Linked DNA regions of Homo sapiens: regions 2 and 3 are each linked to region 1. Evidence: fine-mapped QTL for protein levels in blood plasma. A gene starts in region 1. Each other region holds a variant in brackets. All regions are shown on one strand. Distances are between the middles of the regions. Region 1 holds the start of FAM3D (FAM3 metabolism regulating signaling molecule D). Region 2 overlaps FAM3D (FAM3 metabolism regulating signaling molecule D). Region 3 overlaps FAM3D (FAM3 metabolism regulating signaling molecule D).

Evidence for each region. PIP is the posterior inclusion probability: the model's chance that the variant is causal. The UK Biobank Pharma Proteomics Project read protein levels with antibody pairs (Olink). The fine-mapping took linkage between variants from a reference panel, not from the people measured, so its PIPs are less certain.
Region 2: its variant is fine-mapped to the plasma level of the FAM3D protein (UK Biobank, PIP above 0.99). The variant lies in the coding sequence of FAM3D. If it changes the protein, the assay may bind it differently, which can mimic a change of level.
Region 3: its variant is fine-mapped to the plasma level of the FAM3D protein (UK Biobank, PIP above 0.99).

What each region holds. Positions count from the first base shown.
Region 1 is chr3:58,665,652-58,668,407 of GRCh38, forward strand. It overlaps FAM3D (FAM3 metabolism regulating signaling molecule D), which reads right to left and starts at 1,123. Exons shown (of 10, transcript NM_138805.3): 1 at 925-1,123. It overlaps LOC105377109 (a long non-coding RNA gene), which reads left to right. Exons shown (of 3, transcript XR_940879.3): 2 at 1,902-2,257.
Region 2 is chr3:58,652,122-58,654,877 of GRCh38, forward strand. FAM3D (FAM3 metabolism regulating signaling molecule D) reads right to left here. Exons shown (of 10, transcript NM_138805.3): 3 at 1,553-1,660. Among named protein-coding and RNA genes, the nearest start is that of FAM3D, 13 kb to the right of the region's middle. The variant C/T (reference allele first, on the strand shown) is at 1,570.
Region 3 is chr3:58,640,683-58,643,438 of GRCh38, forward strand. The region is part of intron 6 of FAM3D (FAM3 metabolism regulating signaling molecule D); the gene reads right to left. Among named protein-coding and RNA genes, the nearest start is that of FAM3D, 25 kb to the right of the region's middle. RefSeq lists enhancers at 1-249, 250-750 and a silencer at 52-211. The variant C/A (reference allele first, on the strand shown) is at 1,528.

The sequences.
Region 1 (2,756 bases):
CAGTGTAGAGTCAGTGTGGCATAGTGGGCAGGAGCAAAAGCTTTGCAGCCAGATTGCCTGGGGAAGTTATTAAATCTCTCACTGCCTTGGCTCTCCGTCTGCAGAGTGGGAATAATCATGGTGCTTTCCTTGTAGAGGTGATAGGAAGATTAAATGTGTTATTATATGGAGAGCACTTAGCACATCATACATGTTATTTTATGTACTTCAGTGATGATTATCATAGTTGCGTAGACAATGAGAACTTCAGCGATTGATGGGGGATATTCAGACTCTCTCTCCCATTTTACAGATGAGGAAACTGAGTCTTAGTGAAAGGGACTAGCTCAATATTACATAGCTAGAAAATCTCTCAAGTCCATGCACCTTTGTCATAACTTTTCAGATCATTACCTTATGAGAAAAATGAGATTTGGGGCCAAAGAACAACATTCCTTTCTTTTTTATTCATTTTTCAAATATTTGTGTGGCTCACTGTTGATCATTGGAATGTGTTTTTTTGAATCAATAGATGAGTGAATGAAAGAATAAATGTTGAGGGGCCCCTGTGGTTAAGGAAAAAACCCTGCAGTGTGGGTTATCAAATCCCTAGCTGGCATGCCCTACAGCTCCTTCTTGTGCCCATGGCAGACATAGCTAATCAATCATAGCATGCTTTTGCCTGAGCCCGAACCCAGCCCCAGAATCCTTTTTATCACAGTCTAATTTCATTGATCAGGCCTGGTGCCTCAGATGAAATCTATTTGCCTTCCTGAGTCTGATCTCAGGAATCTCTTCGATTATGTGGTTTCCTTCTTTCTTTCCTTTCATCATTCTGTCTCAGGCTCTTTCACTCCTATTTCCCACCCTCCCCACCTCCATTTTCCCCTCTGTCAATCATGTGTACCTGGAACCATAGCCCTTTCCATTCTTGGGGGGACGTACCCGAGGGCTCGAGGCTCCCACTTCCCTGCTTCGATGGAGAAGGCGAGGTGGTCCAGCAGGTGCCGTAGGTCCCTGACCCAGCTGACCACCACCCTGGGCCAGCTTCTGACAGTCCCACCTCCCAGTTGCTGGAGGGGTAGTGGCCTCACAGACGGCCCTCCTCTAGATGCAGTGGGCCCAGAGGGTGAGACGGAGTGTTGCGGGCCGCCAGTGGGCCAGCTGCTCCTGCCCTGCGCAGGCTCTGCCCCTCCTTTGAGGAAGTTTGCCATCAACTCTCCCTGCCCTGTTAAACAATCTCACAAGGAAGGAGGAAGTTTATTCTAAGTGCTCACGGGGCAGGAAATGAGTCTAAAGTCTTGCCTGGCTGAGGAGTGGCTTAGGGCCTGGCTGGGGCCTGGGGAGAAGGGCCATGCCTGTTCCCTTCCTGTAGAGCTATCCTGACCTTGGCAAGGGAGGTTTGGGTGGGAATTCAAGCAACTTAATCAGGAATGAGATACCACAATCTGCCTTCGAAAACAGCCAAAAAACCTTACAAAAAACCCGACCCTGTGCTAACAACCTCCCCAGGCGCTGGGAGGTGTGGGGCTGGTAGAGCGAGTAACTGCAGCTGATGATCACCTGCTTTGAGGTTCTGGACTAGAGTGTGGGGGGGTGCTGGAGGGGCTGACTGGAAAGAGGGGAACCCAGGCAAGAAACTCAGGACAGGAAAGATGGAGGAGGTCAAAGGCAACTGCAAGATATTGAGCTTGGATGATGGAAAAGGGAGGCTTCTTGGTCAAGAGTGAGGAAGATGGGGGAGAGGAAGTGGTTTGGGAAAAGATTCTGGATTTGGGTGGGGCATATTGAATTAGAGGTTAAAGGTGGAGGGGGTGGGGTGTGGAGAAAGGGAAAGACGGAGAAAGAAAAGAAGGGCTGCTCAGTGGCAGACTTTTAGTGAAATGGTGAATGCAGCCTTTGTCTCCCTTCTCTCTCCTTAGGACCCAAGGTGCACTGAGAGGGGCTCAGCTTCCCCCTCCCCTGATCCAGCACTCCCAGTCTTTGTCACAAATCATGGTCTCTTTCCCAAGCGCTTTCCTCTTAGGAGGAGTTCTTGCCTCGGTCCTTGGCACACAGGCTCCTGGCAACTTCCTCCCTTGTTTGCTGACTCTGAATGCTTCCGTAGGCTGTGTGGCCCACTTGGAAGGAATATTCAGGGGCATGAGGTCCAGCAGCTGGTCAGGAAATGAAGATGCATGCCCAGGGAGCTGGTGCAAGGGAAGAGCAGGGAGCGGACCCTGTGTGATGAGGTGCCGGGAGTGGCCCCAGTTCTGCTGTTCCAGCTGCCCATCCCCAGGTAGGCACGTGGGCCCCCTCAGGATGTATCCCAGGGCGAGGCAGTGCTTTCCTTCACTCTGACTGGCTTTAGGACTGGTCCTGTCCTCTGTCCCATCTCCTTGCCTCTTGCTCTCCCTTATTCTGCTAGGACGGTTCTGCCCATAACTGGTGCCTGGGTCTTGTTCAGACCTGACCTGCAGTGTCACTTCCTCAGGGGGGCCCTCCTGACCCTCACTTCCAATATAAATAAGCACACAAGTGTAGGGGAGTAAAAATGGCTTTCTCTACCCTTCTAGCTGCCTTGGCTGGTCAGGAATTAAACTGACAGCAGGGAGAATAACAGGAGAAAAGGTACAGACATTTATCACATGCATGGGGGCATCCCAGGAAAGAAAAGGAATTCCCCACACCCAGTAAGATTTAGAAGCTTGTATACCCTCTTCACAAGGGAGAGAGGGGTGGGGTGTCAGCACCGTAGTGGAGAGTAAATGATTTCTGGGGAAGAGGAGTGGGCCCTC
Region 2 (2,756 bases), 14 kb before region 1:
TGATCAGAAAGGATATGAATCTGGGAGACCTGGGTTCCCGTTCTTGTTCTAATATCTCCAAGAGGAACTTGGGTGAGTTTTTAAATCTCCTCAAGCTTCTGTTTTCTCAGAACACATGTGAAACCACATCAAGGATTGTGCTTGAGTCCATTCCACAACCACACCATAGATCACTCTGTGGAACATTTGTGCAGGTTAAATGAGACTATGCATGTAAAGCAGCTAGCATCCAGCATCCTTCCACCTGTCCATCCATTCATTCATTCATTCATTCATCTATCCACCCACCCACCCACCATCTACCCATCTAGCCATCCACCCATCCATCTACTCACTCATCCCTTCTCCACCCACTCATCCATCCATCCACCCTTCCCTCCATCTACCCATCTACCCATCCACCCATCCATCTACTCACTCATCCCTTCTCCACCCACTCATCCATCCATCCACCCTTCCCTCCATCTACCCATCTACCCATCCACCCATCCATCTACCCACTCATCTGTTCTCCACCAACCCATCCATCTACTTATCCCTCCATCTATCCATCCAGCCATTCACACATTCACCCACTCACTCATCCATTCTCCACCCACTCATTCATTCGCCCATCTCTCCATTTGCCCATTCATCTGTCCATCTACTCATCCCTCCATCTACCCATCCAACCATCCATTTATCTATCCACCCACCCACTCAGCCATTCTTCACTCATCCATCCATCTGTCCATCCATCTGTCCATCCATCCATCCATCCATCCATCCATCCATCTCTCCATCTACCCATCCATCCATCTACTCATCCTTCCAACTACCCATCCATCCACCCACCCATTTATCCATCCATCCATCCGTTTTTTTTTTTTCACTCATCAAATGTTTACTAGGCATCTGCTCTGTGCCAGGCACTAGAGAGGTGGATGCACACAAAATAAAATCCTTGTCTTCAGGAAGCTCACATTCTAGGGTGTGGAGACTGGCAACAAACAATGAAACATAAAAACCATAATGACAGATAATGATGGTGTTCTGAAAGGAAAAGCCTGACATGAGAGAAGCTAAACTAGGAGGAAGGGGTGCAATCTTAGCAGGGCAACCTTAGCTGAAACTCGAAGGCTGAGAAGGAGCCAGGTGGGAGGGCAGGTGGGGGGGATCTGCATGAAGAGATACAGGAAGAGGGAGCAGCAGGTGCAGGTGAAGACGCTCAATATATGATTTTCTTTCTTCCTTTCCTCCCACCTCCCTTCCTTCTGTTCTTCCTCCCTCTGTCCTTCCTCCTTTCTTTCCTTCCTTCTTCGGGTCACCTTTTCAAAGTGGTCCTCGATGTGGGCACATGTGTTGCCCAGGCCCTTGCAATGCACCTCTGTTCCCCATGGACTCCACCCTTCCTGGTAGTCTGGGGGTGCCCCCTCTCCCTGCAATTGCTGGGGTCCCAAAGGCAGCACAGCTTGTCATGTCTCCTGGGTCACCTAGGGATGGAGGGAAGAATATGTCTTCGGCCCCCAGGCCTGGTCTGCAGTTCCTGCCCCCAGCAGTGAGCCCCACTCACCCAGCCAGCGTGGCAGA[C/T]GGATGGTTTTCATGCTGAAGCTCATGTAGCTTCGAATAAACATCCATGTCGTGACTATGGCAAAGATGAGGGCCAGGAGGCGAAGCACACCTGCTGAGCAAGGGGATGCTGCCAGGAGACCACAGAGCCAAGACCACATTGCAAGACCACGTGTGAGTTCTTCCCAAATCCCACAGACCCCATGCTATAGGCTCAGACCACATCCATGCTGGGGACCAGACCATGGGACCATGTGGTAAGATGTGTGAATTTGTCCAGTGGCCAGTTAGTGAGATTGTGATGCCAGGTCATGTGGCAACATTGCCCCAAGTGGGTCCCCTGGGAGAGAAAGTTAAAAATGTGCCTGCCTGGGCTCCACTTAGCCCTCCAGAGGGAGAGAATCTCTAGCAATGAGGCCAGCATTCTAGACCTTTCTGTAGCCCCTTAAGGGGAGGCCTGAGAACTGCAGTGGGAGGGCAGGACTCTGGGAGGGGAGCCCTGGAAAGGGAGTCAGGAAGGCTGTGGCCAGTGCTCAGGGCAGCCAGCAGTGCTGTGTGACTCTGAGTAGGAGCTCAGCCTCTCTGAGCTGAAGTCCTTCAGGCACAGAGCAGACCTGGTAACACCCTTGCCCCTGAGCTTGTTGGCAGGGATATTGTAGTTGTCAAAAGTAGGCAGCCTCCAGGTGGCTTGGGGTTGGGGCTGCCCCCCACAGTTTCCATCAATTCTCCCTCAAGGCCTCCACAAATAACCGCACACTGGACTTGCTGTGCAGCTTCCAGACAAGCCACAGCTCCCTGGCCCCTGCCTCATGGCCAGATTGCTTTCTGATTCCCCATGTGATTGGGGAACAACCCCACACATGGGGACGAGCCACCTGGAGTTCCCTTTCTTTACAGGGACCGGAAAGCAGGCTCCATTTCACATCCCTGCTACCTTCTGAATCAGACCCACCCATTCTGCTCTGACTCTTGAGGCACAGGCCCAGCTGTGGCACCCCTCCCTCTGACCTCCCTGTTGGCATCTCCCCTGCTCCCCAGCCCCGAATTCAGCTCTAGAGCCTTGAACTAGTCTCTGACTACTCAGGCTGGGGAGAAGGCCCGCCGGGTCCTGTGGGGTGGGATGCAGGTCTGTGGGGATCCCTGGTCTTCAATGGCACAGCACGGATCTAGGCACCCAGAATTCCTCTTGGGTATCAGCTCATGTTCAC
Region 3 (2,756 bases), 25 kb before region 1:
CCCAGGGTCCAGTAACCTGGATTGCGTTTGTGGGTTTTGTGGGAGGAGGTGGCCGAAGGCCAAGCCCTCCAGGGAACCGAGTCTTCTGGAGGAACGTTACAGTTCGCGCTCTCCGCCGCTAGATGGAGGCGTTGCAGAGGGGATGGCAGCTCCGAGGCTTACGGAGGAGGGTGGGGACCAGGCCTAGGCTGTCCAGGTGGCGCGAGCAGGCTCGCTTAGCAGCCCCTCCAGGATTCTCGGGAGCCACGTAGCGTGAACGGAATGCTTCACCTGGGGCTCTTGGAAGGAGTCTATGAACCCATGGGGCTGCTTTTGTGATCGCGTGCGCTTGTGAATGATTCTGCAATTGGAGAGTGTTGGGGGTGGGGGTGGCGGCCAGCATAGCTGGAAGATCCTGAGGACTCTCTGCCCCACTAAAGGTTAAAGACTACTGGATCCTTAGCAATCCTTGTGTTGTTCTTGGTCATATAGATGAGGACACTGAGCCCCTTACATGATTTGTTGGGCTTCCCCACATCTGGCATACATAGCACGCATGTATACAGTAGGTGCTGTATGTGTGGTTGAGACATTTCTAGTCTAGGGAGGTAGTTCAGGTGAATGATTAAGACCTGCAGTTGACTCGATCCAGGTTCAAACGTAGGTGGTTTTATAGGCTGTGTGACCTTGGGCAAGTTGCTTAACCTCTTTTTTTTTTTTGGACAGGGTCTCTCTGCAGTCCAGGCTGGAGTGCAGTGGTGTGAGCTTGGCTGACTGCAACCTCGACCTCCCAGGCTCAAGCAATCCTCCCACCTCAGCCTTAGCTGGGACTACAGGTGTGCGCCACCACACCCAGCTAATTTTTTTACTTTTTGTAGAGACGGGGCGGATTCGGGGGGTGGTTCACTGTTACTCAGGCTGTTCTTGAACTCCTGAGCTCAAGAGATCTGCCCACCTCAGCCTCTCAAAGTGCTGGGATTACAGGCATGAGCCACTGCACCCAGCCTGCTTAACCTCTTTGAGCCTTAGTTTCTTACCTGGGAAATGGGGATATTGAGCATAGCTCCATCCTAACACAGTGATGGGGTTAAATGAAAAGGCACAGTAAGTGCCCAATAAATGCTAGTTCTTATTGCCATTGATGGTTATTTTCATCCTTTTGGCTTTGTGAGAAGCAGGGAAAGAGGCCTAGTCTGGGGCCATCTCATTGGAGAATATTCAAAAAGCTTTTCTCAGGTGCGACCCATTTAGGGGAGAAAGTCAGCAGGTTTCAGCCAGGTCAGCTGCAGCCTGTGCCATTTCCTGCCTGCCCTCGCTGTGGGGTGAGGGCAGATGGATGGGAGTGTTGATGTATGCTGAGGCTCCTACAGTCTTCTGGGGTCTGGCATGCACAAAAGAGCGCTCTGAGACCAGCCTGGGCACACCCTCCCTGCAGGAGGGATGCCACTTCATTGAGGCTGGAGTGGAACAGGCCTGGGCCCTCCTCAAAGCTGCAGAGGAACGGCTGCACTCAGCCTCCTGCCACTCCCTGCCCTGGCCCTTCCTGGG[C/A]TCCTAGGAAGTTGGCCAGGGCTGTCCTCTGACTCCCATCTGTCCAGGAACAGCCCCATCACTGCTCCAGGCCTCGACTTCTCCCCTGACCCATTAGGGTTTCTTGGCAGAGCGAGAAAAGGCTTTCTCTGGAGTGAAGTGCAGGGGCTTGGAGCTGGCAAGGCCGGGGCTCCCATCCTACCCTGTTCCTTCCTAAGTGTGCTCATGTGGTCCTGCCACACACAAGCTCGACAAGTTCCTTCCTGAGCATCCCTTACACCTTTTCCCCAACTTGCCCTGACCTTTGTCCCAGAAGTGGCCCTTACAGCCAGTTCTTAGAAAACTCTGTTTTCTAAGAACAGAGGCAGAGAGGAGGTCTGGCTGGGGCTAGACCACCTGGTCCTTACCTGACCCTGTAAGTCCACTCCCTCCTGAAACGTGTCCCTACTTCAGGCTTGGCGGCCCTCTGGCCTCCTGTTTAAGTGTGTGTCCTGCAGGAGATGCAGGGTTATCAAGGCCATGGATTCCCTTGTGGTCTCCCTGCCTCCAGCCCCCCTACTCCAAGCTGGAGGGAGGTTTCTGGAGTGCATGCCTGGCCCCTCACACACTGCTCAAAGCCTTTCCGTGGCTCCCTACTGCTCTCGGCTTCCAGTCACACTTCTTAGCAGGCTTGCTAGCTCCTCATCCTCTGGCCTTGCTGCTGTCCCCAGCCTTGCCTCTCTATGTTGCCCTGCAAACCTCTCTCCCTCCCTTTCCCTTCTCCTCCCTGCACTGTGTTGCCCCTGCCTGGAAAGAGCCTTCCCCAATTTTCTCCTGGCCAGCGCCCACAATCCTTCAGGCCTTAGCTGGCCATCAGCTCCCTCTGGAAGCCTCCCCTGAACCACCCGGGGTCTGTCCCCTGTTCTGCATCCCAGCTCTGCATCCCAGCTCCCATAGCTGTGCTTCCTGCCCCTCCAGAGAGGCTCACCACATTGAGATTGTTTGTGAGCCTCACGGATACCTACGGAGGCTGTGAAGCCAGGGCCTTTCTAGTTCTTGGCTGACCCCCAGTGTCCTGTACAGAGCCTGGCCCACAGTAGCTGCTGCCTGTATTTGTTGAATGAATGAATGAAGGTGTATACTCAGCATGTGATCTTGCACTGTCATTGGTTGTCCCCACATCCTCATTTGTGTTGGCTTAAGCAGAGAGGCTTTGAGGATCGGGTCATGTTTCACTCATGTTCCATAGGAGAAGTGTGTCCTCCTGAGAT